Linked DNA regions of Homo sapiens. The protein of the gene in region 1 interacts with the protein of each later gene in a pairwise test. Each region holds a gene or a part of one and is shown in the gene's direction. Other genes may lie near its edges.

What was found.
Region 2: the proteins of NUMBL (region 1) and CLSTN1 interact in binary tests that used the Homo sapiens proteins (3 or more experiments, as listed by UniProt).

Annotation. Positions count from the first base shown.
Region 1 is NC_000019.10:40,670,233-40,685,557, reverse strand, and holds part of NUMBL (numb-like protein), read left to right. Parts: intron 1-1,001; coding exon 1,002-1,141; intron 1,142-2,589; coding exon 2,590-2,664; intron 2,665-2,755; coding exon 2,756-2,830; intron 2,831-4,500; coding exon 4,501-4,641; intron 4,642-8,136; coding exon 8,137-8,326; intron 8,327-11,908; coding exon 11,909-12,214; intron 12,215-15,325. UniProt on the Homo sapiens protein: Plays a role in the process of neurogenesis. Required throughout embryonic neurogenesis to maintain neural progenitor cells, also called radial glial cells (RGCs), by allowing their daughter cells to choose progenitor over neuronal cell fate.
Region 2 is NC_000001.11:9,809,087-9,824,411, reverse strand, and holds the start of CLSTN1 (calsyntenin-1 isoform 1 precursor), read left to right. Parts: upstream 1-446; 5' UTR 447-678; coding exon 679-769; intron 770-15,325. UniProt on the Homo sapiens protein: Postsynaptic adhesion molecule that binds to presynaptic neurexins to mediate both excitatory and inhibitory synapse formation.

The DNA of each region.
Region 1 (15,325 bases):
GACATCGATGCCCTTCAGCAACAACCTTCAGGGCCTCAGACTCACAGACAACAACCACACTTTTGGATGCATCCCTCACGGACAGCATTCACAGATGCACACTATCCTACACCATTCTCAGACATGCGTTCTTCCAGACAGCCTTCAGAAACACACTCACAGACATTACTTGCCTGCTCAGATATAGAGCCCCTCATAGACAGCGTTCCAGAACATACCATTGCACACTTGCTTACACACACACACACACACACATCCCCCTCTGCTGTTGGTGCTCCCAGTCCTGGGACTGTCAGGATGGCTGATCAGTGAAGACTGTCCTAGTGGCTGGCCACCTCCACACCCACTCCACACACCCACAGCCCTGCCTCTGACAGTCATCAGTGCAAGGCCCCAGAAGCCTTGCCTGGGGACTAGACACAGTTGTCACAGAATGGCTGTGTCTCAGAGTTCCAGAGACAAGCCACCATCCCCCATACCCCATGCACCTGACTCCTGCACCCCTGACCCATGCAATTCCCAACTCCTCTGCTGCCCTCTGATCACCCCACTGCCTGACTCTCATACCCCTAAAACCCCTGACCGTGCGGCCCCTGACTTCTATGCCCTCTAGCCCCCATGCCCTCCTACGTCTGATTTCCCACCCTTTGTGTCCTCACGGCCCTGGGAATGAGGAAGCATCCACCACATGGACAAGAAGCCCTCCAATGCCCTGAAGCCTGTGCCCCATACCCCCCACCCCAGACCTCCAGCCCCTTAGCCCCATGGTTCTGAATCCCCAGTGCCCAACTTTCGCACTCCCCTGGCTTCTGTTGGCTCCTTTCCTCACTGTCCCCTGACTTGAGCTGCTGATCCCATGTGCGCTGCCAACTGACCCTGTAACCCCGCTTCCAGTTATCTTGTTATCTGACCCCATGCTCCCTGAGCACTGGTCCCTCCCCGTTGAGCTCCATACCTTCTGACCCCCACCCTTGACCCACATCACTGTCCTGTGTCACCAGACGGGGCGGGCACCATGAACAAGTTACGGCAGAGCCTGCGGCGGAGGAAGCCAGCCTACGTGCCCGAGGCGTCGCGCCCGCACCAGTGGCAGGCAGACGAGGACGCGGTGCGGAAGGGCACGTGCAGCTTCCCGGTCAGGGTGAGTGGGCGCGGCAGGGTGCGGCGGGGCGAGGGGGACGGGGGCCGCTGTGCTGTGCTGTGCGGGTGCGCGGCCTGGCTGGGACACCAGCCCAAGTCGTTTGAAGTTGGTGTTAAAAAGCGTGAGGCCGGCAGTCCTGGCTATCACGGTGAAACCCCGGCTCTACTAGAAATACAACAAATTAGCCTCGCGTGGTGGCGGGCGCCTGTAGTCCCAGCTACTGGGGAGGCTGAGACAGGAGAATCGCTTGAACCCGGGAGGCGGAGATTGCAGTGAGCCGAGATAGCGCCATTGCACTCCAGCCTGGGCGACAGAGCAGACTCTGTTTCAAAAAAAAAAAAAAAAAAACTTGAAGCGTAGTGGTGGCTAACACCTGTAATTCCAGCACACTGGGAGGCTGTGGTGGGAGGATTGCTTGAGTCAAGGAGTTCAAGACCAGCCTGGGCAAACACAGGGAGACCCTGTCTCTACAAAAAATAGGCACAGTGGCACGCACCTGTAGTCCCAGCTACTCACAAGGCTGAGGTGGGAGGCTCACTCGAGTCCAGGAAGGTCGAGGCTGCAGTGAGCCTTAATTGTGCCATTGCACTCCAGCCTAGGCAACAGAGTGATACCCAATCTTGAAAACAAACAAAAAACCAGAACACATTTTTTTGTACCAGCAAACTATTACCTGGAAGCCGTCATGTGGTGTAGCATTTGCAAAGCGCTCTACCGATAAGGACGTTCTGGTTTAGCCATACCCTACGCTTTTACATTCCTGTGAGGGGGAGAGCAGGATTCACGGCGTGGACTGTGGAGCTCAGCCCCTTCCTGGCTGGGTGATGACTGACCATGGTCACAGCCCCTCCACCACCTTACGTTCCCTTCCCTGGAAGCAGACTTTGAATGTGACGGCTTCATTTGGGAGGTGCAGGAAATGGTGTTGGGAGTGAGGAAAGTAAGGCAGCCAGTAAAGGGTGTGTTATTAAAACTGCAGCAGTGTGCAACTGAGCTTTCCCCTGGGAAACTCGAGGCAACAGTCATCCCACCTGCAGATGAGGGAGCTGGGGCTCAGGTACCCTAACTCCCTTCAGTCATTGTGGGGACTGGCCCAGGCTCTTTCTAGCTGCTTTAGGGTAGGCAAAGCAGCTTTGCATGGCCTGTGGCCAGTCCTCACGCACAGAGATGCAAATACTAGCTCTCGGGAGGACCACGGTGCCGGGTTAGGGCCCAGGGGTATAGCTAGACTGGAATCACTACTACGTGCTGTGCTTCAGTTTCCCCATCTGCATGTCTAGACCAGGAATGGGGTCTCCACCTTGTAGAGTTGAGATGCAGAATAAATGATTGCATACACATCATGTGCTTAAAATATTGTCTACTGCATGGCAGATGCTCAGTGGACACTGAGAATGAGTGATTACTGTGCTGTTTCATGTCCCCCCCCCCATTCCCTCCAACCCAAGTACCTGGGTCACGTGGAGGTAGAGGAGTCCCGGGGAATGCACGTGTGTGAAGATGCGGTGAAGAAGCTGAAGGCGGTGAGTGAGGGGGCTGCCATGAGGGAGGGGGCAAGGTCAGACAGGGAGAGGCACCCTGACCCGGCTCCTTTGTCCCCTTGCCTCCCTCCAGATGGGCCGAAAGTCCGTGAAGTCTGTCCTGTGGGTGTCAGCCGATGGGCTCCGAGTGGTGGACGACAAAACCAAGGTAGGAGGCCTGTGGGGGTGGACGCCAGGGGGCCTGTCTGCTCACCCTGCTGGAATCAGGGCGGAGGACACCTTCCCGCCTCCTCTGCACATCCCTCCCTCAGGGACCTTCTAGACGATGCCGTGTGCTCCCTCTGTCGTCATAACTCAGGAATAAATGCTGTGATTATTTGGGAACTGGCATAGGCTGTGGGTGAGAGAGACTGGAGCAGCTGCCTCAGCTCCGATCCCAGCTTAGGGACCCTGGGCATGAGATTTAACCTCTCTGAGTCTCAGTTGTGTCATCTGAAAAATGCAGATTATAGGCCGGGAGTGGTGGCTCACGCCTGTAATCCCAGTACTTTGGGAGGCCAAGGAGGGTAGATTACCTGAGGTCAGGAGTTCGAGACCAGCCTGGCAATATGGTGAAACCTCATCTCACTAAAAATACAAAAATTAGCTGGACATGGTGGTGTGTACCTGTAATCCTAGCTACTTGGGAGGCTGAGGCAGGAGAATCTCTTGAACCCGAGACTTGGAGGTTGCGGTGAGCGGAGATCATGCCATTGCACTCCAGCCTGGGCAACAAGAGCTAAACTCCATCGCAGAAAAACAGGGATTATAATAGACCCTACCATTAAGTGAGAAAGCATATGCAAGTTATTTGAAATGGTGCCTGGCTGGGAGGGCCCCTTGAAGCCAGGAGTTCAAGATCAGCCTGTGAAACATAGCAAGGCTCCATCTATACAAAATAATTTTTAAAAAAATTTAAATGTGGGCTGGGCACGGTGGCTCACGCCTGTAATCCCAGCACTTTGGGAGGCCAGGGCAGTTGGATCACCTGAGGTCACGAGTTCGAGACTAGCCTGGCCAAGATGGTGAAACCCCACCTCTACTAAAAATACAAAAATTAGCCAGACGTGGTGGTGCGTGCCTGTAATCCCAGCTACTTGGGAGGCTTAGGTAGGAGAATCACTTGAACCCAGGAGGCAGAGGTTTCAGTAAGCCAAGATCATGCCACTGCACTCTAGCCTGGGTGACAGAGCAAGACTCCTTCTGGGAAAAAAATATATATATATATTTAAATGGGGTCTAGTACATCGTAACTGCTCAGATCAATGAATGTTAGCCATTAAGTGTTTATTGTCACCCTGCCCAGTCAGAAGGAAGCACTATGAGGCCACAATCTAGGTATCTGTTTGCTCACCTTGAATCTGCTGCCCCCAGCCCAGAGACTGCCCTAGGAGGTGCCCAGGACATGCTGAGAGTTGGGTTAATAACAGAACAAGATCACCACCTTTGCAAGGCAGTTCCCTCAGCCCAAAATACTGTTCCTTGACTTTTTTTCTTAGTTAGTACCTGCTCCAGGAAGCCTTGCCTGACTGACCCCAAGCTGGCTTCTGCCATGCTGGCCCTGACCCCTCTGCCTGTGCCTCCATGGTCCTGGCCCTGACCCCTCTGCCTGGGCCTCCTTCATCACATCCTGGCTATGACTCTGGGCTGCCCATCTCGTGATGGGTCTGATCTTCCCGCTGACCTGGGAGCCCTCTGCAGGCAAGGCACAGGGTGTCTCAGTGACTGCTGGGTCCCCACCCTGTTCAGGACTGGATTTCAGCAGACACAGAGAGAATGTTGAGTGAACACTTGAAAGAGAGTTCACACTCTTCTCCTGGCCTCCCCGGCCCCTCCTAGGATCTTCTGGTCGACCAGACCATCGAAAAGGTCTCCTTTTGTGCTCCTGACCGCAACCTGGACAAGGCTTTCTCCTATATCTGTCGTGACGGGACTACCCGCCGCTGGATCTGCCACTGTTTTCTGGCACTGAAGGACTCCGTGAGTATTGCCACAGCTGGCCAACTCTTCCCTCCCATGCCCTGGCATCCCAGCCCCACCCCTACAAGCTTCCTGCATTCAGGCACATCACTAACCTCTGTGTGCCCAGTTTCCTCATCTGGAGAAGAAAGTATACTCACGGTTCCCAATTTAGAGTATTCACGTGAGGGCCGGGTGCAGTGGCTCACACCTGTAATCCCAGCACTTTGGGATGCTGGGGCGGGGGGATTGCCTGAGCTCAGGAGTTCAAGACCACCCTGGACAACATGGTAAAACCCCATCTCTACTGAAATACAAAAAATTAGCTAGGTGTGGTGGTGCACACCTGTAGTCCCAGCTACTTGGGAGGCTGAGGCAGGAGAATCACTTGAGCCCGGGAGGTGGAGGTTGCAGTGAGCCAAAATTGCACCACTGCACTCCAGCCTGGGAGACAGAGTGAGACTCCATCTCAAAAAAAAAAGAGTATTGGCCAGGCGTGGTGGCTCACGCCTGTAATCCCAACACTTTGGGAGGCCAAGGCAGGCAGATCACCTGAGGTCAGGAATTTGAGACCAGCCTGGCCAACCTGGTAAAACCCCATCTCTACTAAAAATACAAAAAAAGTAGACAGGCATGGTGGCAGGCGCCTGTGATCCCAGCTACTCCAGAGGCTGAGGTAGGAGAATCACATGTGGGGAGAATCACATGAACCCTGGAGACGGAGGTTGCAGTGAGCCAAGACTGCACCACTGCACTCCAGCCTGGGTGACAGAGCGAGACTCTGTCTCAAGAAAACAAAAAAAAAAAACTATTTGGGGATGAGAATGAAAGCCAGAAAAGAGCAGGACCATCTCCTGTGGGTAAAGAATGTGATGTTGGATGAATTCCTTCCTACTTCTGAAGGAAGTTTTAACCATTAAGCAGTAGAATTCCCCAAGTTCAACTTTTTTTTTTTCTTGAGGTGAAATTCACATAAAATTAATCATTTAAAAGTGTACAATTCAATGGCATTTAATACATTTTCAGTGTTGTTTAACCATTGACTTTAGCAGTCCTGAAACATTTTCATCACCGCTAAAGGAGACCCCATCTCCATTCATCAATTCACCCCGTCTCCCCACTACCCCAGCCCCCTGGCAACCACTAATCTGCTTTGTCTCTCTGTGGATTTACCTATTCTGGATATTTCATTTAATGGAATCATATAATATGTGTCTGGCTTCTTTACTTAGTGTAATGTTGTGTTTTTGTTTGTTTTTGAAACAGAGTTTCGCTCTTGTTACCCAGGCTGGAGTGCAATGGAGCAATCTCAGCTCACTGCAACCTCTGCCTCCCGGGTTCAAGCAATTCTCCTGTCTCAGTCTCCCAAGTAGCTGGGATTACAGACATGCACCATCACAGCTGGCTAATTTTATATTTTTAGTAGAGATGGGGTTTCTCCATGCAGGTCAGGTTGGTCTTGAACTCCCGACCTCAGGTGATCCGCCTGCCTCTGCCTCCCAAAGTGCTGGGATTATAGGTGTGAGCCACCCTGCCCGGCAATGTTTTTAATTAATTTATTTAATGACACAGCGTCTCTCTCTGTCATCAAGGCTGGTGTGCAGTGGTGCAATCTCGCCTCACTGCAACCTGGGTTCAAGCGATTCTCCCACCTCAGCTTCCTGAGTAGCTAGGACTACAGGCACACGCCACCATGCCTGGCTAATTTTTTGTAGAGATGGGATTTCGCCATGTTGCCCAGGCTGGTCTCGAACTCCTGGACTCAAGCGATCCAGTCACCTTGGCCTCCCAAAGTGCTCGGATTACAGGCGTGAGCTGCTTGTATCAGTGGTTCATTCCTTTTTTTGAGACGGAGTCTCGCTCTGTTGCCCCAGGCTGGAGTACAGTGGCACGATCTTGGCTCACTGAAACCTCCGCCTCCAACCTTCAAGTGATTCTCCTGCCACAGCCTCCCTAGTAGCTGGGATTACAGGTGCACGCCACCACACCTGGCAGATTTTTGTATTTTTAGTAGAGATGGGGTTTCACCATGTTGGCCAGGCTGGTCTCGAACTCCTGGCCTCAAGTGATTTGCCTGCCTCGGCCTCCTGGGATTACAGGTGTGAGCGACTGCAGTCACACCGTCTGATTCTTTTTGTATGTCAAATTTGTAGGCATTGGACTACTTCAGCATGCACACCATTAAGTAGAATTCGTATTTGTTTCCAGATTTTTTTTTTCTTCAAAGCGAAAGATATGATTGTCTTAGTTCAGGCTGCTATAACCAGATAGTGTAGACTGTGTGGCTTAAATGACAAACATTTGTTTGCCGCAGTTCTAGAGGCTGGATACCTGAGGTCAGGGTGTCAAATGGCTCATTTCTTGGTGAGGGCTCTTTTCCTGGTTTGCAGATGGATGCCTGCTTTCTGTATCTTCACCTCTCAAGGTGGAGGGGAGATCTCTTGTCTCTTTTTCCTTTTTAAGGGCATTAATCCCGGCCGGGCATGGTGGCTCACGCCTGTAACCCCAACACTTTGGGAGGCCCAGGTGGGCAGATCACTCGAGGTCAGGAGTTCGAGTCCAGCCTCACCAACATCATGAAATCCCATCTCTACTAAAAATACACAAATTAACCAGGTGTGGTGGCGCATGCCTATAATCCCAGCTACTTGAGAGGCTGAGGCAGGAGAATCGCTTGAAGCCGGGAGGTGGAGGTTGCAGTGAGCTGAGGTCATGCCGCTGCACTCCAGCATAGCATCAGAGTAAGACCCTGTCCCAGAAAAAAAATAAATAAATAAGGGCATTAATTCCATCATGAGGACCCCACCTCATGATCTAACATAACTTTTATTGTCTCTCAAAGGCCCACCTCCAAATACCAGCACATTGTGGATGAGGGCTTCAGCGTTAGAACTGAGAGAGACACACACGTTTAGTCTATAGCAATGCACAAGCCTTTGGTGTACAGTCAACGAATTTCGACAACTGCATACACCCATGTAACGAAACCCCTATCAATATCTAGAACATTGCCACCACCCGGTCATCCCCTCATACACTTTCCAGTCATTCCCCACCCCATAGGAAACTACCACTATTCTGACTTTTTTTTAGACAGAATCTCACTCTGTCACCCAAGCTGGAGTGCAGTTGCCCCATCATAGCTGCTTGCAGCCTTGACCTCCTGGGCTCAAGGGAACCTCCCGCCTCAGCCTCCCAAAGTGCTAGGATTACAGGCGAGAGCCACCACTCCTGGCCTGTTCTGACTTTTTTTCACCATAGAACCATAGATTAGTTTTGCCTCTTCTGGAATTTCCAGTAAGTGGAGCCACACAACAGGCTCATTGGTTTCTGGCTTCTCTCACTTGGAGCTGTCATTTCCAGCCCTTCCTTGTGGTGCAGATGAGCACTGAGGCCCAGAGAAGTGCAGAGACTCATCCGGGGCAACCCAGTACCTAGCGGCTATAACCCAGTGCCCCTGGCCCCTGTCCGCACTGCCCAGCGCCTCTAACCCCCCCGCCCATCCTCTCCCCATAGGGCGAGAGGCTGAGCCACGCTGTGGGCTGTGCTTTTGCCGCCTGCCTGGAGCGAAAACAGCGACGGGAGAAGGAATGTGGGGTCACGGCCGCCTTCGATGCCAGCCGCACCAGCTTCGCCCGCGAGGGCTCCTTCCGCCTGTCTGGGGGTGGGCGGCCTGCTGAGCGAGAGGCCCCGGACAAGAAGAAAGGTGGGTGTTGCCCCAAGCGCCAGCAGAGCACAGAGTGGGCACAGGGTACCCAGTATCAGGGGGCAGGGAGCTGCAGAGGTGCAGAGACTCAACAGTTTACAAAGTAGGGGATGCTTCAGGCCAAGCGCCATGGTTCACACCTGTAATCCCAGCACTTTGAGAGGCCGAGATGGGCGGATCGCTTGAGGTCAGAAGTTTGAGACCAGCCTGCGCGACATGGTAAAACCTCGTCTCTACTAAAATACAAAAATTAACTGGGCATGGTGGCCTACGCCTGTAATCCCAACTACTTGGGAGGCTGAGGCAGGAGGATCGCTGGAACCCTGGAGGCAGAGGTTGCAGTGAGCCGAGATCACGCCACTGCACTCCAGCCTGGGCAATAGAGTGAGACTCTGTCTCAAAAAATAAATAAATAAATAAAGCAACTTCCATGGAAAGAGTTCTCTGGGCAATATTCTAAGGGCGCACCAAGTGGTTTACTATCCACCAATTCGGGGCTTTTCGAGGCTTTTCTTTTTTTGTTTGTTTTTTTTTTTTTTTGAGACGGAGTCTCGCTCTGTCAACCAGGCTGGAGTGCAATGGTGTGATCTAGGCTCACTGCAACCTCCACCTCCCGGGTTCAAGCAATTCTGCCTCAGCCTCCCGAGTAGTTAGGATTACAGGCATGGCTAATTTTTGTATTTTTAGTAGAGATGGGGTTTCACCATGTTGGCCTCAACTCCTGACCTCAGGTGAGCCACCGCGCCTGGCCTTCTCAGGGCTTTTCAACCTGTGTATTAAGACCTGGGAAGCCAATTTGCTGTACTGTGGCTGGCATTTTTTGTTTTGTTTTGTTGTCTGAGTTGAGGTCTAATTCTGTTGCCCAGGCTGGAGTGCAGTGGTGCGATCACAGCTCCCTGCAGCCTCAAACTGCTGGGCTCAAGTAATCCTCCTGCCTCAGCCTCCATGTAGCTGGGAATATAGGCACAAGCCACAGCATCTGGCTAATTTTATTTTTATATTTTGTAGAACTGGGATCTTGCTGTGTTTCCCAGGCTGGTCTCAAACTCCTGGCCTCAAACGATCCTCCCACCTCAGCCTCCCAAAGCACTGGTATTATAGGTGTGGACAACTGGGCCCAGCCCATGTGGCTGACATTTAAAAAAATGAAATCAACCTGGGCAACATAGGGAAACCCTGTCTCTACAAATCATTAAAAAATTAGCCAGGCGTGGTGGTGCAACCTGTGGTCCCAGCTCCTCAGGAGGCTGAGGCAGGAGGATCACCTGGGCCCAGGAGGTAGAGGCTGCAGAGAGCTGCGATTGCACCACCACACTCCAACCTGGGTGACAGACAGAGTGAGACCCTGTCTCAAAAAAAAAAAAATTAATTTAAAAACAATGAAATAGAGAATCATAGAAAATATCAGAGTATATTGAATGGCATAAGGGTTAAATATAATTTAATGATACTTTTATTTGAGAGAGAGAGTGTGTGTGTGTGTGCACGCGTGTGTAAGAGGCTACCATATAAAAGATATCTCTTAACTCTGGATTGCCATCAAGAAAGTTTGAAACATACTTGGTAAAACTAACTTTCTAGGTAAATGGTTAAATACTTTGTAAGTTCTAAAACTCTGTGTGTGTGTGTGTGTGTGTGTGTGTGTGTGTGTGTGTTTAAAATATAATTGTATGTATGTCCTGAGTCACCATATAATTAATTTATTTATTAATTAATTAATTTATTTATTTATTTTACTGTGAATTTAAGTTCTTTGGGAAAACACTACTTAGAATTTACAAAGAATTTACCATTGGGAACTGATCCTGATTAAGGGAGACTAATGAGGTTTAACAGGTATTAATAGATGCGAGATGTGATCCTGAATTAGATCCTGGATTGTAAGGGGAAAAAAAAGAACATCTTTTTTTTGAGACAGAGTCTCTCTCCGTCACCCAGGCTGGAATGCAGTAGTGCCATCTCAGCTCACTGCAACCTCTGCCTCCTGGTTTCAAGACATTTATGTGCCTCAGCCTCCTGAGTAGCTGGGATTACAGGTGCCCGCCACCACGTCCAGCTAAGTTTTTTTTTTTTTTTTTTTTTTTTTTTTGAGACAGAGTCTTGCTCTGTTGCCCAGGCTGGAGTGCAATGGTGCGATCTCGGCTCACTGCAACCTCTGCCTCCCGGGTTCAAGCGATTCTCCTGCCTCAGCCTCCAGAGTAGCTGGAATCCCAGGCGTGTGCCACCACACCCAGCTAATCTTTTTTTGTATTTTTAGTAGAGATGGTGTTTCACCATGTTGGCAAGGCTGGTCTTGAACTCCTGGCTTCAACTGATCCCCCCACCTTGGCCTCTCAAAGTGCTGGGATTACAGGCGTGAACCACTGTGTCCAGGCATGCTTTTGTTGGATTCCAAAACATTTAACATTCACTACCTAAACTGACCCTCTCAGAGGCTTGGGAGGTAGCACTGAGATGTTTATCCCAGGTTTCTAGTTGGCAAACTGGAGCCCAGAGAGGGGAGGGGACTTCCTGAGGTCACACAGTGAGTGGAGGCAGAGGAGGTTTCCTGGTTCCAACCTGTCCTGGGCTGTTTCCACTGCCTTGGGCCAGGCCTGCATGGGTGCCCCATTGTGTCACGATGGGAGAAGCAGCACTGGGCGACATCCTTATGGGAGGGTCTCTCTGGGCCTGAGTTTAATCTCCATGGCATTCAGGCTGCAGCTCGGGGAGGCCCTGGTAGGAGGGTAGATGTGTGTTTGTGGTTTGGCAGGGGTGAGGGCAGCCCTGCCCTTGAAGAGCCTGCCTCTCCTGCTGAGTGGGGAGGTCAGGTTTCCTCCCAGAGTACAGAGAACAGTCTCAGAGTGGAGGGAGCCAGGCTGAGAGCCTGGAACAATCTGGAAAGCTTCTCAGAGGATGAAGCATCCAAGCCATGTCTAGAATGACTGGAGGAAGGGAGGAGCTACTTGAGGTGGGAAGAAGGCTGGGAGGTGGGAGACAGAGGGGAACAGACAGTGACAGAGAAAGACAACATGATATGGAGAGACAGGTCAGAGGGAGACAGGGCGGGCAGTCATTTGGAGCATGGGGTCCAGAGTCAGCCTGCCCCTTCCTAGCAGTAGGACTTGGGCACATCACACTGGGCCTTTGCTGGGTCTCAGTTTCCACATCTGTAAAATGAGAATCATATCAACCCCATGGGTAGTCGTGTGGATTGAATGAGTGAATACTTGAAAAGCATCTGGAACAATGCCTGATACGTTGTTCCAGCACCAAATCAGTGTTTGTTAAGTGATCAAAAAGGGAGATAGAGGGTCTTAGAGGGAAGAATGGTGAGAGCAGCAGGGCAAGACAGAAAGGGGCAGGAAGCTGGAGAGACACAGAGGGTGAGCCTGGGGGACGGTTTTCCAAGAGCCTCCTGGGGAAGGGGATCATGACTTGGGTGGGGGTGAGGGATATCTCAGGGCTTTGACTAGCTTGTCTTAAGGGCAGGACTCACTGGGCAAGGAAGGCAGCCTTGGAGAATGATCAAGAGAACCAGGTGGGAGAGGCCTTGCATGCCATGGTGAGATATCTAACCATCCATCTCCCCCATGTCTCCAGCAGAGGCAGCAGCTGCCCCCACTGTGGCTCCTGGCCCTGCCCAGCCTGGGCACGTGTCCCCGACACCAGCCACCACATCCCCTGGTGAGAAGGGTGAGGCAGGCACCCCTGTGGCTGCAGGCACCACTGCGGCCGCCATCCCCCGGCGCCATGCACCCCTGGAGCAGCTGGTTCGCCAGGGCTCCTTCCGTGGGTTCCCAGCACTCAGCCAGAAGAACTCGCCTTTCAAACGGCAGCTGAGCCTACGGCTGAATGAGCTGCCATCCACGCTGCAGCGCCGCACTGACTTCCAGGTGAAGGGCACAGGTGAGCCCTGGGCCCAGTGGGAAACGGCGTTGGAATCAATTGGCACTATCTGATGTGGGCAAGGGATGGAGGCGAGATGGTTCACACTGTGATTGATTTGCACTGTCTGCCATGGGCAAAGGAGAGAGAGTGGGAACATGTCATGATCGATTAGCAGTGGGCAAGGGAGAGGAAAGAGATAGCACAAATCAGGATTGATAAGCCGTGTCTGCTCTGAGTAAGGGATAGTAGAAAGGCATCACAAGTTATGATCAGTTAGCAATGTCTGGTGTGGTTAAGGAAAAGGAGAAAGATGACACACATCATGATTAGTTAGCAAAGTCGGCTATGGACAAAGAAGTCGGGCATGGATAAGGAAGTTTGCCATGGGCCAGGGAAAGAAGAGAAGCAACACCATTGGCCTGTTTTTGCTCAGGAGTAGACTGAAGCACTACAGGTTAATGCTCCCTCCCTCCAAGCATTCACCTATGAGATCTGGCTAGGTGAAGGATACAGGTATTCCTCAGGCTCTGAGGAAAGGAGGATTGTGATGGATTAGAAATGTCTGCCTAGGGCAGGGAGCATCAAGGGATGGCAAAAAAGGCATCACAAGTCATGATCAATTAGCAATGTCTGCTGTGGTTAAGGGAAACGAGAAAGATGGCACACATCATGATCGGTTAGCAGTCATGATCTCCATGCAGTGTGTGTCATGGGCAAGGGAGAAGAAAGAGTAGCAAGAGTGTTATGTTTTTACCCAAAGGGGAGACTCCCAGAATTTGGTCAGTAGAAACATGACATGCAGGGCACCAGTGAGCTCAGAGATCCCAGGGGTCAGGGGCATAGTGATGGATCAGGAACATTTGTTGTAGGCACAGAGTTGAGCAGAGGCAGTACCCATCACGAAAAGGAGCAGCACATCATAATTGATTGGCATTGTCTGCCATGGCTGGTGGTAAGAGAGAGGAGATATAAAGGTCCTGTTTTACTTGGAGGGAAGATGGAGTTACAAGGATCTGTTTCTTCTAGCACTTGGCCAGGGGAGCCATGAGGTCTGGACAGGTGACGGGTAAGGTGAGCAAAGAGCTCCGTGGGGGAAAAAAGCATTGTGTTTGATTACTAATGTCTGCCATGGGCCAGGGAAAGGAGACAGGTGGTGTACATCATGATCTAAAAGTGATGTCTAGCCAAGTGCAGTGGCTCATGCCTGTGGTCTCAGCACTTTGGGAGGCCAAGGCAGGCAGATCACTTGAGCCCAAGAGGGGCTCAAGGATCCCTTGAGGCAGATCACTTGGCTAAACCCTGTCTCTACAAAAAAATACAAAAACTAGCCTGGTGTGGTGGCGCATGCCTGTAGTCTCAGCTACTCAGGAGGCTGAGGAAGGAGAATTGCTTCAGCCCAGCTGCAGTGAGCTAAGATTGCGCCACTTCACTCCAGCCTGGGCAACAGAGTGAGAACCTGTCTCAAAAAAAAAAAAATTAAGAGCAATCTCTGCCATAGGGAAGGAAGATAGAGGTGGCACGCTACTGAGTTTTTGCCTGAGGGAGGCAGGCAGAAGGGCTGTCTTCCCCACCAGCAGCCAGTGAACCCATGTGGTCTGGCCCACTCTCTTGCTCCTGGATGCCAAATCTGCATCGCCTACCCGTTATGTCCTCGGGGATTGATGTGGGAGGGTGTTGAGCTGTATCCAGGAGGCTGGGCTGCTCCAAAAGGTAACCGGTGAGCAGATGCCAACCCTTGTTGAGAGTGACGCACGCTCCCTCCATGCCTGCAGCATTCCTGGGCCATCACACACCCTCACATTTGCTGTCCTTAACGCAGCCTGACATCAGGCACACTCCCCAGGCTGTCACACGTGCTCCTGAGAGGTGGCAGGAGCTCCAGGCTTTATTTGGAAGCCTCACACTCCTGTGGCCAGCTGCACGCTTATTTGGATGTGACTTGCCACACAGAAATTTCACATACTCACATAGACATTGCACCCCCCCACACACATGTCACACATGCTCAGAAGTCACAAACTCACAGTCAGGTATACTCTCAAGTCACACACACTCCAAAATCACAGAGTCAGAAGTCACACATGGCCAGACGTGGTGGCTCACACCTGTAATCCCAGCACTTTGGGAGGCTGAGGCAGGAGGATCACTTGAGCTCAGGAGTTTGAGACCAGCCTGGGCACCACAGCAAGATCTCATCTCCACAAAAAAATTTTAAAAATTAACCTTTATTGTTAACCAGGTGCAGTGGCATGCACCTGTAGTCCCAGCTACTCAGGAAGATTGCTTGAGCCTGGGAGGCGGAGGTTGCAGTGAACTAAGATTGTGCCACTACACTCCAGCCTGGGCAACAGAGCGAGACCCTGTGTCAAAAATAAATAAATAAATATTTTTAAAAAAGAAACACACTCAGATTTACACACCTTCACAGACCACACACCCAGATTTATGCAAACTCCAAAGCCACATGTGCAGATCCATGCACACCTGCAAACACACTCATACATCACACGGCAGATGCACTCACACCTGGGAGTCACGCATCAGGACGCCACACACCCGGACCCCAGTCACACTCTCAGAAGCTGCATTCCTGTTTGGACGAACATGCACAATCATTGTCGACATTGGCTGTCCCACCCGGGCGCCCCCGCAGCACACCTGCAGACTCCTACGGCCAGTTCTGATGTTCACTGGAGCATCTACATGGTCCCTTGGAGACAGCCATTGGCTAAAACATCACAGACATGTGTCACACACCACACATGGGAGTCCTTAATTGTTTATTTGGATGGTACCTTTGCTCATCACAAGCCCTCACGGGGCCGCCATGCCTGCTCAGTGTCTCCTGCCTTGCTGGCACAGGTGTATCTCTGCTCTCATGATGTTTGCCATAGATCAGCCTGGGTGGGGTGGACAGGACCCCACTTCTCTGCCCAAAGCTGGACAAATGATCCCCAGCCAGTGAGCGGCCATGCCACAGCCCATTCAGACTGGGCCCATGTCCTTGCCATGCACGTGGTTGGGCATATTTTTAAACTAATATATGTTGCTAAGTGTTTTAGACAACTCTTCTGGTTTGTGGCCACACACAAATCTTGAGGTCCTTGGTTTGGGGTCCCTGTTACTGTC
Region 2 (15,325 bases), on another chromosome or scaffold:
TGCTCCGCCGGGGTCTGCGCTCCTCGGCGGAGCGGGTGGGAAGGATGAGTCCTCGGGGTGGAGAAGGAGGAGCGGGTCCCCGGGTACCGCTCACCCGGCCTTAGGAGCCCGGGAGCGCGCGTAGGGACGCGGAGTTGAGGCTCTCCATCTGCGGCCAGGGAAAGGGATACAGTCCCCCGGGCCCCTCCCGGCCGCTCGGAACCCACCCCAGGCGCGTCCCCGCGGGCGCGCGCTCCAGGCGGGGCCGACGGGCTCGGAGGCGCGCGCCCGCTGCCGGGTCCGCCGCGCGCGCTCCCTCCGCTCCTCTCCCCCGCCCCTCCCGGGCCCGCGCGCTCCCAGGGTCCGCCGCGCGCGCGCCTCGCGTCGCTCCCCATCCCCGCCCCTCCCGCCGCCACCCCGCCCCCGGCCGGGTACCCTCGCCGGACCCGAGAGAGAGCGCCGCCGCCATCTTAGTTGCTGCCGCTGCCTTCAGCAAGACGCTGCTCTGAGGCGGGGAGGGCGCCGCGTCCTGAGCGCGCGGCCCAGCGTCACGGCGGCGGCGGCGGCGGCTCCTCCTTGGACCCCCGGAGCTCCCCGCGCCGCGGAGCAGCTAGCCCCAGGCCCCTAGAGCCCCGAGAGCTCCGAGAGCTCCGCTCGGCGTCCCGCGCGCCTCCCTGCCGCTCCCGCCCCGGGCTGGCGATGCTGCGCCGCCCCGCTCCCGCGCTGGCCCCGGCCGCCCGGCTGCTGCTGGCCGGGCTGCTGTGCGGCGGCGGGGTCTGGGCCGCGCGAGGTAAGCCCCGGGGCTGGGCCGGGCCGCTGGGTCGGTGCGGGATTCGGGTCCGGGTGCAGGATTCGGGTCCCGGTGCGGGGATTCGGGTCCGGGTGCGGGAGTAGGGCCGGATGCCGGGATTCGAGCCGGGATGCGGGGAGTCGGGTCCGAGCGCAGGGAGCCGGGTCAGGGCGTGGGGTTCGGGTTGGGGGTCGGGCTCGCGGAGCCGGGGCCAGGGCGCAGGAGACTGTGGGCGCGCGCTGCAGGCGTCCCGGGGAAGCCAGGCTCCGTCCCGGGCGGGGCTCCTGAGCCTGGGCTGCCCCCACTGCAGCCCATGGTGGTGGCTGCGCTGATTTGGGGGAACGTGCAGACGGGCCGAAGGGTCAGTCCGCCCTGCTCAGCGGCGCACGCAGGCTGGGGCTGCACCCCTGGGTGAGATGCTCTGTGTACGTGTGCTCAGATGTGCATCAGGCGGGGGGTGCACGCACAGTTTTGGTGTGTGCTTACATAAGAGCCCACTCCTCCGCATCCCGTTTCCAAGATCCCGATTCTGTGTTGCTGCACCGCGGACACCACGACTTCGCCCCTTTCCGCCTCCTCCCAGAGTCCTTCAGACGTTGTCTGTTTCCAGTGGAGCCGAGGCTGAAACTTAGTGCTTCCCTCCCACCTTTTCACCCAAAGGTGAAATCGCGATGAGATTTGCGACCGCGGGCTCACCCAGTGTTAGAAATCTCCGTCTCTGCTACCCCTGGTGCCTTGGTGCTGTTTTTCTGACGGTCATTTAGACCGTGGAGGGTTAGATGTTCTCTACAAAAACGAGAAACCTCTCTGGTTTTTTAGGATTGTAGGACCGAAATTATTTTATGGCTCGGTGGGAAGTAGTATTTCTTGGCTAATTTATTATTAGCTTTTAACCTTCATCCACTTAACCTTTTAAACCTTGCATGCCTCTGCTATTGACTGGTCTTGCCAACGAAAAGCTTACGCATTGCAGATACAGTATTTGCTTCTGAGTGGATCTTGAAATCGTAAACATTTTCCTTGGCCTTAGAGCAGAGTAATCTAGGTGTAGTCTGTAGAATCTACTGTAGGCTTAAATCTGTTGTTCTGATTTTTTTTTAATCAAAAGAAATTTTGGGGAGGAGGATTGATAGAAATCTAGATGAAATGGTCATATTTGAATTTAGCAAGCTTTTTAAAAATTCTTATTTTCCCTTCCCTGGCGTGACATAAGGAGAGAAGTATGGTGTTCACGAATTAAAGGGCAGAGGCGGCAAATGCATCTTTTGTTCCATGTTCCTTTCTAAACATCGAGGATGATAAACTTTGAATACTTCTTTTATTTCATTTCTAACATTCTGTTGACTCTGTCAAATTCAGATCTTAGTCACTAAGTATCTCATTGCTGGCCATTTGATTTTTAAAAGTAACATCAAGCTAAGTTTGAAATGTTCTTTCCAGATGTGGGTTGGAGGTCTGAAACTCTAATATATCCAAGAGAAATGTCAAAAGTTTTGCTTCTCTTGGGGAAAACCCACACATTTTAAAAATATGTGCTTGGATTGGGTATTTTGGGAACAGTTTAAGTATATTTAGTCAGTGATACCATTTCTTGTTAAAATTGGTGCTTTCTTAAATAGCACCTACATTTGTTAGTCATTATTTAATTGCCTTGGTTACTTAAACAGCATACATTTCAACTTTGAATATCTTCATTACCTGAGACCGACAGAAATCTTGTGTGAAAGGTGTGTTGGCTAGTTGAGTCATTTGTAATTTGCTTTCTCTAAGTTTTTCTTGGTGCAGTTACAGTAGTTCAAGATTCTTAGTCTTCGGAATAAAGACATTTTACACATCAGTTATTCGTATGCATTTTTTTCAGGTTGCAAGTTAGAAAATGTCTTGGAATTACACGAAATGCTAATAAACAATTTCATTTTGAAATATTACAAGTGAATTTCATATGTAAATTTACAGTTTGGAGACACTCTGTGGGCTCGTTTTAAGAGATCATTTCAACTAATTGAATTTTTTACGGCTGTAAGGCAGTACGACATGAACTCCTGTTCATGCTGTAGCTACCTTTAATCATTGTTAATGTTAGATTACGTACAGACTGCTGCAGAAAATGATAGATTTTCTAATATAAATTGCATCTTGACTCTTAGTTTTGTAGAGACCCTCAAATTTTATTTTAATTATAGCTGTAGTTCTCAAAAAACATTGAGTAGAGCTGGGTGCAGTGGCTTGCGCCTGTAATCCCAGCACTTTGGGAGGCCGAGGCCAGCGGATCACCTGAGGTCAGGAGTTCGAGACCAGCCTGGCCAACATGGTGAAACCCCATCTCTGCTAACTATATAAAAATTAGCTGGGTGTACTGGTGGACGCCTGTAACTCCAGCTACTTGGGAGGCTGAGGCAGGAGAATTGCTTGAACCCAGGAGGCGGAGGTTGCAGTGAGCCGAGATTGCGCCACTGCACTCCAGCCTGGGTGACAAAGCAAGACTCCATCTTAAAAACAAATTCAGTAAGCCAAAATATTAGAAGAAATATCTTTGGCATGCCCTGGACGGTCATGTCCTTCAGCTACCTGCCTTCTTCATGGAGATCGGGAAATAGAACAGTGAAGCAGAGAAAATAGAAAGCTTATATGAATATTTAAAAAATGCAACCATGTAATGCATTTCGAAGCCACTTAATACATAAAATTCACTGTTACTTTTCCATTTGCACATAGGCTTAGTGAGACCTCCCCTCACCATCCTATTTGAAATAATTTCTCTTCCTGAACCCCTAAATCCTGTTTCCCTGCAACACTTTTTCTTTTTGCATAGCACTTAGCCCATTCTAACATGCCTTGTTGTTTACTTATTGAATTGTTTATCGTCTGTTTCCCCTCAGTAGAACATATGCCCCAAGATGGAAGGGTATCTGCTTTGCATATGTTTCCCGTCACCAGCACACCAGAGGCATGCCAGTATTGTGTGATTGAATGAATGAATGGGTGGATGGATAACAGCATTTCAGTTTAGACAGCGTAGTAGCTTTGCATCCTAATTTTCACTTTACAGATAAATGCTATATACTGAAAAAAATTACATAGTGTAAAGCAAACTTAAGTTTTTTTTTTGTTTGTTTTTGTTTTTGTGACAGAGTCTCATTCTGTCACCCAGGCTGGAGTGCAATGGCGCGATCTTGTCTCACTGCAACCTCCGCCTCCCGGGTTCAAGAGATTCTTCTGCCTCAGCCTCACCAGTAGCTGGGACTACAGGCATATGCCATCACACTGGGCTCATTTTTGTATTTTTAGTAGAGACAGGGTTTCACCATGTTGGCCAGGCTGGTCTGAACTTCTGACCTCAAGTGATCCGCCTGCCTCTGCCTCCCACAGTGCTGAGATTACAGGTGTGAGCCACTGCACCCGGCCCAAACTTAAATTCTGCAGTGTCGATATGGGAATTCATTAGTGGGTAAATTTTCAAGGATCATGGGGCCAGCCTCGGTGGCTCACCCCTGTAATTCCAGCACTTTGGGAGAACTAGGCAGGCAGATTGTTTGAGCCCAGGAGTTTGAGACTAGCCTGGGCAACATGGTGAAACCTTGTCACTACAAAAATACCAAAAAAAAAAAAAAAGTTCAAGGATCAATTCTGTTGGTTGCAGTATTGGGGATATTAGATCATGAAACTCTGTCTCAGCCTTTGAAGGCTGTAGCTCTGTGGCTACCCCTGTTAGTCCCTTTAAAAATACTATAATTTTCAGCTTTTTTGGGAAGATGGTTTCTTAATTTGTTACCTCGTTTTTTCAGAAGTAACGATGTGGAAAAAAGTCGTTCGAATATAGACCTCAGTATTACCCATAGTCTAACATTTTTAATACTGAAAGTAAATAACATTTATTTCTCAAAGGAGACCTATAACTGCTGAAGAAATAATAAAATACGAACAATTTTGAATATATTCCAATTTTAGAGCATTCACTCGGTTAACTGGAACCTTCAGTTAGCTGGAATTCGTCCTTTGGCTGGATATTTCTTTTGGGAGAAAAAGCATGAAACCAAGCAGTTTTATAGGAATTATTTTTCAAAAGGAAGGTTTAGGAGGTCATAACATACATTATCTGTGCCAGTATTTGATATTCAAGCCAAAAACGCAAATAATATTTCAGTTTTAGTTATGAAGAATATGACCAAAAAATGAAATTTTTGTGGGATATAAAATATTACATTGAAAATAGAAAATGCTGTAATTTCGTAACACTAGCTGCAGGACTTAGTGAAGCTTATTAAACCAAGTCTAAATGTTTAAAATGAGGAAGCTGAGATAGGTTAAAATTTTAGAACAAAGGAAAAAAAGTACTGAGTTATTTTTATTATTGCTTTCTGAGACAGGAAAGTATGTTTTTTAATTTTTTTGGGTAGTTTTCATTTATAAGAGTTGAAACAAAATAGAGATCTGATTATCCTAAAAAACCGCCAAGAGTCTATTTCTTATGTATTCTGGTTGAGGGCTTAGATCATTAAAACTTGTTTTTTTAGTGGGTCTTAATTTGGTGTGAAGACTTGCTTGAAGGGGCCGGGTGCGGTGGCTCACACCTGTAATCCCAGCATTTTGGGAGGCCAATGTGGGTGGATCACGAGGTCAGGAGATCAAGACCATCCTGGCTAACACGGTGAAACCCCATCTGTCTCTACTAAAAAAAAATACAAAAAATTAGCCAGGCGTGGTGGCAGGTGCCTGTAGTCCCAGCTATTCGGGAGGCTGAGGCAGGAGAATGGCGTGAACCCGGGAGGTGGAGCTTGCAGTGAGCCGAGATCGCGCCACTGCACTCCAGCCTGGGCGACAGAGTGAGACTCCGTCTCAAAAAAAAAAAAAAAAAAAAAAAAAAAGAGTTGCTTGAAGAAATATGTCTTTATAAGTGAAATTTAAAATGTTGATTTGCTACAAAATACGGATTTTAGTAGTGTTTCAGGACTACAGATTCAAGATTGGTGGAAATTATTTATGCAATGTCATGTTCGTGCATTAAAAAACAACCAAGGCCTGGCGCGGTGGCTCATGCCTGTAATCCCAGCACTTTGGGAGGCCAAGGTGGGTGGATCATGAGGTCAAGAGATGGAGACCATCCTGGCCAACATGATGAAACCCTGTCTCTACTAAAAATACAAAAATTAGCTGGGCATGGTGGCATGCATCTGTAGTCCCAGCTACTTGGGAGGCTGAGGCAAGAGAATTGCTTGAACTCGGGAGGCGGAGGTTGTAGTGAGCCGAGATCACACCGCCGCACTCCAGCCTGGCGACAGAGTGAGACTCAGTCTCAGGAAAAAACAAAAACAAAAACAAAAAAAAACCCAAACGGCCAGGCATGGTAGCTGACACCTGTAATCCCAGTGCTTTGGGAGGCCAAGATGGGTGAACTGCTTGAGTCCAGGAGTTCGAGACCAGCCTGTGCAACATGGTGAAACCCCATCTCTACTAAAAATACAAAACAATTAGCTGGGCATGGTGGCATATGCCTGTAGTCCCAGCTACTCAGGAGGCTGAGGCTGGAGAACTGATTGAGCCTGGCAGGTTGAGGCTGCAGTGAGCCAAGGTCACACCACTTGCATTCCAGCCTGAGCGACAGAGCAAGACTCTGTCTCTAAAAAAAAAAAAAAAAAAAAGCCAAACTAACAGACCCTCAAAAGTGACATTTTGAGGCTATGCAAAGGCCATATATAGGAACCCTTAAATGGCGACAGCCTCCCCACTGTGTCAGCCTGACATACAATACCCGTCTTTTCCCTAAGAGCTGCCACCACCCGGGAACTAGAATGCTGCTTTCAGTTGTCCCTGATTTGATAGGTTCTTTCTCTCCTATGTTTTAGGTATATTTTTGCTCATTTTTTGATTTAGCTTTAGGATATTATTATTAGATTAAAAATTTTCACAAGATCTGTTACTAAAGTTTTTATTTTTAAAGATTCTTGGCAGAGATTCACGTACTTCAAAGTAGCAGAGTTTAAAGCAGCTTAAATGCCTATAAAACATCTGAAAGTTGGCTGGGTGCAGTGGCTCACAACTGTAATCCCAGCACTTTGGGAGGCCGAGGCAGGCGGATCACCTTAGGTCAGGAGTTCGGGACCAGCCTGACCAACATGGAGAAACCCCATCTCTACTAAAAAATATAAAATTAGCCGGGTGTGGTGGCGCATGCCTGTAATCCCAGCTACTCGGGAGGCTGAGGCAGGAGAATTGCTTGAACCCAGGAGGTGGAGGTTGCGGTGAGCCGAGATGGTGCCATTGCACTCCAGCCTGGGCAACAAGAGCAAAACTCCGTCTCAAAAAAAGAAAAAAATCTGAAAGCTTCCTTCCCATTCCGGAACCCCAATAAGAAGTATGTGATAGCATATCAAAAGAAGAGTCATGTTTTTTCTTTTTTACTTCTTTGGTCAGACATGAATCATTATCTTAAAAAGAATTAATAGAAGTGGCGTCTCACTGTGTTGCTCAGGCTGGTCTCGAACTCCTGGACTCAATCAGTCCTCCCACCTCATCCTCTCAAAGAGCCGAGATTATAGGTATGAGCTACCGCACCTGGCCGAAGAATCATCTTTCAGCCATCTGTTTCGTTCTGTCTGATTCTCCCATGACAAGAACTTCTGTTGAGTCTGCTACTTTTCAAGCCTACCTTGATCTGTACTTTCTCTGAGTCATTGTGTAGGACAAAGGAGGACCACCGGCTGGGTGCGGTGGCTCACGTCTGTAATCCTAGCACTTCGGGAGGCCGAGGTGGGCGGATCATCTGAGGTTGGGAGAAAGAGACCAGCCTGACCAATGTGGAGAAACCCCATCTCTACTAAAAAATACAAAATTAGCTGGGCGTGGTGGCACATGCCTGTAATCCCAGCTACTTGGGAGGCTGAGGCAGGAGAATTGCTTGAACCCAGGGGGCGGAGGTTGCAGTGAGTCGAGATCACACCATTGCACTCCAGCCTGGGCAACAAGAGCAAAACTCCATCTCAAAAAAAAAGACCACTTTTGTCATGCCACTGCACTCCAGCCTGGGTGACAGAGCAAGACTTTGTCTCAAACAAACAAACAAAAAAACCCACCTTTTTCTGCATCCACTCCTTTTTTTTTTTTTTTTTAAAGCAGCTTTATTGAGGTATAGTTCACATACCATAAAATTCAACCTTTTAAGGCATACAATTCAGTGATTTTAGTATATTTACAAAGTTGCACAACCATCACCACTATCTAATTTCAGAACACTTTCATCACTCCCAAAAGAAATCCCATATCTGTTAGCAATCATTCTCCATCTCCCTCCTCCTCTCCTCCTCCCTTGGCAACCCCTAGTCTATTTTCTGTCTATGGATTTGCTTATTTTGGACATTTCACATCAATGGAATCATACGTGGCCTTTTGTGACTAGCTTCTTTTGCTTAATATGATGTCTTCAAGGTTCATCCATGTTGTAGCATGTATCAGGACTTCGTTTCTTTTCATAGGTAAATAATATATCCTTGTAGGGATATAACACATTCTGTTTATCCATTTATTCACTGATGGACATTTGGGTTATTTCCACTTTGTAGCTAATTTTGGAAAATATTACTATGAACATTTTTGTACAGGAATTTGTGTGGACATATGTTTTCATTTCTCTTGGGTGTATACCCAAGTGGAATTGTTGGGTCTTAGGGTAACTCTTAGATTTAACTTTTTAAATTAAAAAAATTTTTTTTTGAGGTAGAGTCTCACTCTGTCACCCAGGCTGGAGTGCAGTGATGTTATCTTGGCTCACTGCAGCCTCCGCCTCCTGGGTTCAAGAGATTCTCCTGCCTCAGCCTCCCGAGTAGCTGGGATTACAGGTGCCTGCCACCATGCCCGGCTGATTTTTGTATTTTTAGTAGAGACGGGGTTTCACCATGTTGGCCAGGCTGGTCTCCAACTCCTGACCTCAAGTGATCCAGCTGCTTTGGCCTTCCAAAGTGCCGGGATTACAGGCGTGAGCACTATGCCCGGCCTGTGTTTTTAACATTTTGAGGAACTACCAGTTGGTTGTACAAAGTGGCTGCACCATCCTGTATCCACTTGACCTCCATAGTCACTCACAGGAGCATTTTTCGAATCAAATACACATTTCACAGTTTTCTAGTTTGTTAGAATTTTAAGTTGAATTTTTCCTAGTCTAGGTGCAAACCGGCATTTCATCCAACCAATTCCTTCCTTTGCCATTGTCTCTCATATAATTTCTACTCTGGACTTTAGACTTTGAGTTGAAAGGAACTTTGAAAGTTCTTTCCTCTATACTTTAAATAGCCTTCCCTGTAAAACAGACATTTCCTCATATGTTCTTGTGTGTTGATCATTCAGCCTCTGTTTGAACTCTGCTGCTGTGGGGCTCTTGGTAGCTCACAGAGCAACCCTTTTCTTAAAAACATTGAGCCTTTGGTCAGCTTTCCTGAGGACTAAATTTTATCACGCCTTTGTATTTTTGCAGGCATCCAAGCCTACAGTCTGTTGTTTTTACCACCTCACACATTAAGAGAGACTGAGAGCACTGAGGCCTAGGCCTTGATTTCTGTAGATTTCTTAGGAAATCTGAGCCTAGCACAGGGCTACACATGCAGTGTTTGGGGGACAGCCACCCAGACACATGCAGAGTCAATATCCTGGTTCCAGGAGCAGGGCTTAACTTAATGAAAGGGACTGGAAAAAACACGAGAATTTTCAAACTACAACTAGTTTAGAAAAGTGACATTTTTCTTTTTTTTTTTTTGAGACAGGATCTTGCTCTGTTGCCCAGGCTGGAGTGCAGTGGCACAATCACAGCTCACTGCAGCCTCAACCTCCCTTGGCTTAAACTATCCTTCCACCTCAGCCTCCTGAGTAGGTGTGCACACCGCCATGCCTGGCTAATTTTAAAATTTTTGTAGAGACGGGATCTTCCTATGTTGCCCAGGCTGGTCTCGAACTTTTGGGCTCAAGCATTCTGCCCTTTTTGGCCCTCCAAAGTGCTGCGATTATAGGCGTGAGCCACCATGTCCAGCTGACATTTCTTCATTCATTACATTTTTGTTATGCTAGTTGGCTAAAAATGTGCTTTGTTAAAAAGTAAATTATTTTTTCTAGTCCTTTGATTTTATTTAACTATTCCTCAATTACCCAATCTTCAAACATATAAAATGCTTAGAAATATGTCTTTAGATTCAAAGTGAATTTTAAAACTCAGTAAAAATGAATATCTTCTTTGTTTACATACTTAAAGTATAGCAAAGAAATTTTTATTCAAGCTGGAGTGCAGTGGCACGATCTCAGCTCACTGCAATCTCCGTCCTCCCAAGGTTCAAGCGATCTGCCCATTTCAGCCCCCTGAATAGCTGGAACTACAGACACACACCACCATGCCTGGCTTTTTTTTTTTTTTTTTTGGTAGAGATGGGGTTTTACCATATTGCCCAGATTGGTCTCAAACTCCTGGACTCAAGCAATCTCCCTGCCTCAGCCTCCCAAAGTGCTAGGATTACAAGCATGAGCCACCATGCTCAGCCTAACATTTTTCTTTCTTTTTTTTTTTGAGACAGTGTCTCGCTCTGTCACCCAGGCTGGTGTGCAATGGCGTGATCTTGGCTCACTGCAAGCTCCTTCTCCCAGGTTCATGCCATTCTCCTGCCTCAGCCTCCTGAGTAGCTGGAACTACAGGTGCCTGCCACTGCGCCCGGCTAATTTTTTTTTGTATTTTTAGTAGAGACAGGGTTTCATCGTGTTAGCCAGGATGGTCTCGATCTCCTCACCTTGTGATCCTCCCGCCTTGGCCTCCCAAAGTGCTGGGATTACAGGTGCGAGCCACCGCGCCCAGCCAACATGTTTCTTATATAGTACTTTTGAGGACCACTTCAAAATAGTTGAATGTCATAAATTTAAATTGAAGAAATGTGAAACTTCAGAATGATTTGTATAAGGTTGTCTATTAAGTGGCTTTTAAAGGGTATAATGAATTCCATCTGAAATGCAGACTCTAGTCTCACTGAGTTTTGCATATTTCAGATGTAGTTAATGATGAAGATTGACAGGACTAGCTACATAATCCAAGGGGCCAATGCAAAACAAACTGTGGGGCCCCTTGTTCAAAAATTATTAAAAATGTTTTTCTTTTTCTTTCTTTCTTTTTTTTTTTTTTGAGACAGAGTCTTGCTGTATTGCCCAGGCTAGAGTGCAGAGGTATGATCTCAGCTCACTGCAACCTCCGCCTTCAGGGTGGAAGCAATTCTCGTGCCTCAGCTTCCCGAGTAGCTGGGATTACAGACATGCACCAGCAAGCCTGGTTAATTTTTTGTACTTTTAGTAGCGACAGGGTTTCACCAGGTTGCCCAGGACGGTCTTGAACTCCTGAGCTCAGGCAGTTCACCCGCCTCAGCCTCCCAAAGTGCTAGGATTACAGGCGTGAGCCACTGCATCTGTCCCAAAAATTATAAAAAATATCAAGATGGCAACAGGTTTTTCTTTTTGTTTATTAGACAGAGTCTTGCCCTGTCACCCAGGCTGGAGTGCAGTGGTGTACTCTCGGCTCACTGCAACCTCCACTTCCTGGGTTCAAGCGATTCTCATGCCTCAGCCTCCTGAGTAGCTGGGATTACTAGGCACCCGCCACCATGCCTGGCTAATTTTTGTATTTTTAGTAGAGATGGGGTTTCACCATGTTGGCCAGGCTGGTCTTGAGCTCCTGACCTCAAGTGATCCTCCCACCTCAGCCTCCCAGAGTGCTAGGATTATGGGCTGAGCTACCTCACCTGGTCAGCAATAGGTTTGTTTGTTTTTTTTTTTTTTTTTGAGATAGAGTTTCAGTCTTGTTGCCCAGGCTGCAATGCAATGGCGTGATCTCAGCTCACCACAACCTCCACCTCCTGGGTTCAAGTGATTCTCCTGCCTCAGCCTCCTGAGTAGCTGGAATTACAGGCATGCACCACAACTGGCCCGGCTAATTTTGTATTTTTAGTAGAGATGGGGTTTCTCCATGTTTGTCAGGCTGGTCTTGAACTCCCGACCTCAGGTGTTCTGCCCGCCTCGGCCTCCCAAAGTGCTGGGATTACAGGCATGAGCCACCGTGCCCAGCCAGCAATAGGTTTTTAAACCAACCCTGGGGCCCTTCTATGCCTGGCTCCTGGCACATGCAGGAAACTGGCCCTGAGTATTGATAAAACTAGATGACAGAGTATTAATAGTCAAATTGTGGGCCCAGGGCCTGAGATTTTCACCAGAGCTGCTTGTCCTCTGTGTCTCTTGTCAGCTGCATCTCTGGCCAATGCTCCTCCTTCCCCTTGGGAAAAGAGTCCTGCCTTTTATTCTAAGTGGCTTCAGGGTGCAAGTTTCCCCTTCATCTTTCCATCCTCAGCAACAAGCAAAGGATAGGCTCTACTCCGTTCTCAGTGGACAGTGAGAACCGATGGTAGACAGAGGCTCACAGAAGACTAGGGTTGTGTATGATCTGGGGGACTAAAGCCCTTCTGTTAAGCAGATTATGTTTACTCTTTTTTGTTTTTTTGAGACGGAGTCTTGCTCTGTTGCCCAGCCTGGAGTACAGTGGTGCGATCTCGGCTCACTGCAAGCTCTGCCTCCTGGGTTCAAGGTATTCACCTGCCTCAGCCTCCTGAGTAGTTGGGACTACAGGCATATGCCACCACGCCCAGCTAATTTTTTGTATTTTTAGTAGAGATGGGGTTTAACTGTGTTAGCCAGGATGGTCTCAGTCTCCTGACCTCATGATCCACCCACCTTAGCCTCCCAAAGTGCTGTGATTACAGGCGTGAGCCATCGCCCCTGGCCTATGTTTACTTTTAAAATGATTTGACTAATTGATGCTAGTTTCTTATTACTTACAGAATTAGTAAAAAGGATAACAAATCATTAAAATTCTTGGATAATCCCTACTCTTTTTTTTTTTTTTTTTGCCATGCATTTCAAGCATTTGTCAGAGTACTAAGTAAATAGTAAAACACACTGACTTGAATTTCATTTTCTCCTTAGGCCCTCTCACTCTGGGCTAAAATTATTAAAGGAACAGTGGGGGTGGGGAGTAACAGGTGGGGTACAGTCGTTTTGAGTTTTTGAGCCCCTCAGTTACTAGTGCCTTGTGACTAGTTGGAAGGGGACCTTGATAATCCTGACTGATTATAAAGCCCTAAGTTGGCAAGGTCAGAGCTTGCTTCTGAGCTGTCTGTAAATATCCATTGATACCAGCTCATGATTCCTGTAGAAAACATTTTCATTTGGCAAGGGTTTAAAAAGTCCATGCCCAAGTGTACGAGAGCCGCCTCTTGTTTACCTAGGAAGCAGCGAATACATGTCTTCTAAACATTCAGAGCCTTGAATAGAAAATAAATACTGGCTTAAATGCTTTTTTATATGAAATCTGACATGTTAAAACTTCTTCTAAATTGGAGTAAGTACCACTGGGATAGCTTCATAACATAGCCTTTCCCCTCCCTTCTGCTGACTTTAATAACAACTACGACATTACTGTTTGTTTGAATGAAATAATGTTTTAGGCCATTAATACCAGTGGTTAATATATATTTGCAGATTCATTTGGTAAAGTTTATTAACTTTGTCTTTTTCTAGACTTTTTCTGAGTGTTCTTAGAAGGTTTGGGCTTTTTAACTGCTACTTAAAGTAATGCATATGGCAGTGGGTCTGAACAGATTGTGTTGATTGCATTTTTCTTGTTGCATATAAAGTATATCATACATTGTTGTGAGGGTCCCAGGAGCAAGAGAATTGATCAGAGAACAGAGAGGAGAGAGGATCCGGAGGTATGTGGAATGAGGCATTCTAGGTAGATGTGGTCAACAGTTTAGATTTTATTTTTATTTATTTATTTATTTTTAATTTTATTTATTTATTTTTTGAGTTGGGGTCTCACTGTGTCGCCCAGGCTGGAGTGTAGTGGCGCAATCTCGGCTCACTGCAACCTCCGCCTCCCAGGTTCAAGAGATTCTCCTGCCTCAGCCTCCTGAGTAGCTGGGATTATAGGTGTACACCACCACACCTGGCTAATTTTTGTATTTTTAGTAGAGATGGGGTTTCACCATGTTGGCCAGCCTGGTCTCGAACTCCTGACTACAGGTGATCTATCTGCTGTGGCCTCCCAAAGTGCTGGGATTACAGGCGTGAGCTAGTGTCCCCAGTCTTTATTTATTTATTTTTGAGACAGAGTCTCATTCTGTTGCCCAGCCTGGAGTGCAGTGGCATGATCTTGGCTCTCTGCAACCTCTGCCTCCCGGCTTCAAGCAATTCTCCTGCCTCAGCCTCCCGAGTAGCTGGGATTACAGGTGTACACTCCCACACCTGACTAATTTTTGTATTTTTAGTAGAGATGGGGTTTCACCATGTTGGCCAGCCTGGTCTCGTACTCCTGACCTTAGATGATCCACCTGCCTCGGCCTCTCAAAGTTCTGGGATTAGAGGCGTGAGCCACCATACCCTGCCTGCCTGCCTGCTTGCCTGCCTTCCCTCCCTTCCTCCCCTCCTTCCCCTCCTTTCCTCCCTGCCTTCTCCCTTCCTTCCTTCCCTCTCTCCCTCCCTCCCTCCTTCCTTTCTCTCTCTCTCTCTCCCTCTCTTTCTCTCTCTTTCTCTCTCTCTCTTTCTCAGAGTCTCCCTCTGTTGCCCAGGCTGGAGTGCAGTGGCATGATCTTGGCTCACTGCAGCCTCTGCCTCCCAGGTTCAAGCTATTCTCCTGCCTCAGCCTCCCAAGTAGCTGGTATCATTTTTATAGTTTTTTTGAGACAGAGTTTTGCTCTTTCCCTCAGGCTAGAGTGCGGTGGTGTGATCTCGGTTCACTGCAACCTCTGTCCCCCAGGTTCCAGCAGTTCTTCTGTCTCACCCTCCCGAGTAGCTGGGATTATAGGCACCCACCACCGCGCCCGGCTGATTTTTGTATTTTTAGTAGAGATGGGGTTTTACCATGTTGGCCAGGTTGGTCTCGAACTCTTGACCTCATGATCCACCTGCCCAGGCCTCCGAAAATGCTAAGATTACAGACGTGAGCCACTGCTTATATTTTTAGTAGAGACGGGGTTTCACCATGTTGACCAGGCTGGTCTCAAACTCCTGACCTCAAGTGATCCAGCCTCCTTGACCTCCCAAAGCACTGGGATTACAGGCATGAGCCACCCTGCCTGGCCCAGTTTAGATTTTAGAGAAGTGAATGCAAGCATGAGTACCGAGGAGAGGCAGGTGGGGTGGTGATTAAGAGGCCGTTCATGTTATCTTCAGGAATGCACGGTGCAGAGTGGTGTGCACAGGAGCCTGACTGCAGAGATTGAAGGAGTGAATTATTCAGGATTGGGTGCTGACCCAGGAAGAGGACAGACCATCAGGCGAGTAAGGCAGATCCGCATTTGGGCGGGCGCTTCAGAGTGACTCCTGGAGGCTGGGGGGTGTGTGTCTGATGGGCTGTCACTCACATCCTGTGTCTTCTCAGGGAGGGCTCTGGGAGGCATCTGTGGCCAGCGGACAGTGACAGCATAAGGCCAGAGGTGTAAGTCTTGGCAGAGAATAAGGGCAGAGCCTGGAGGGCCATTGTTTCCCCTCAGC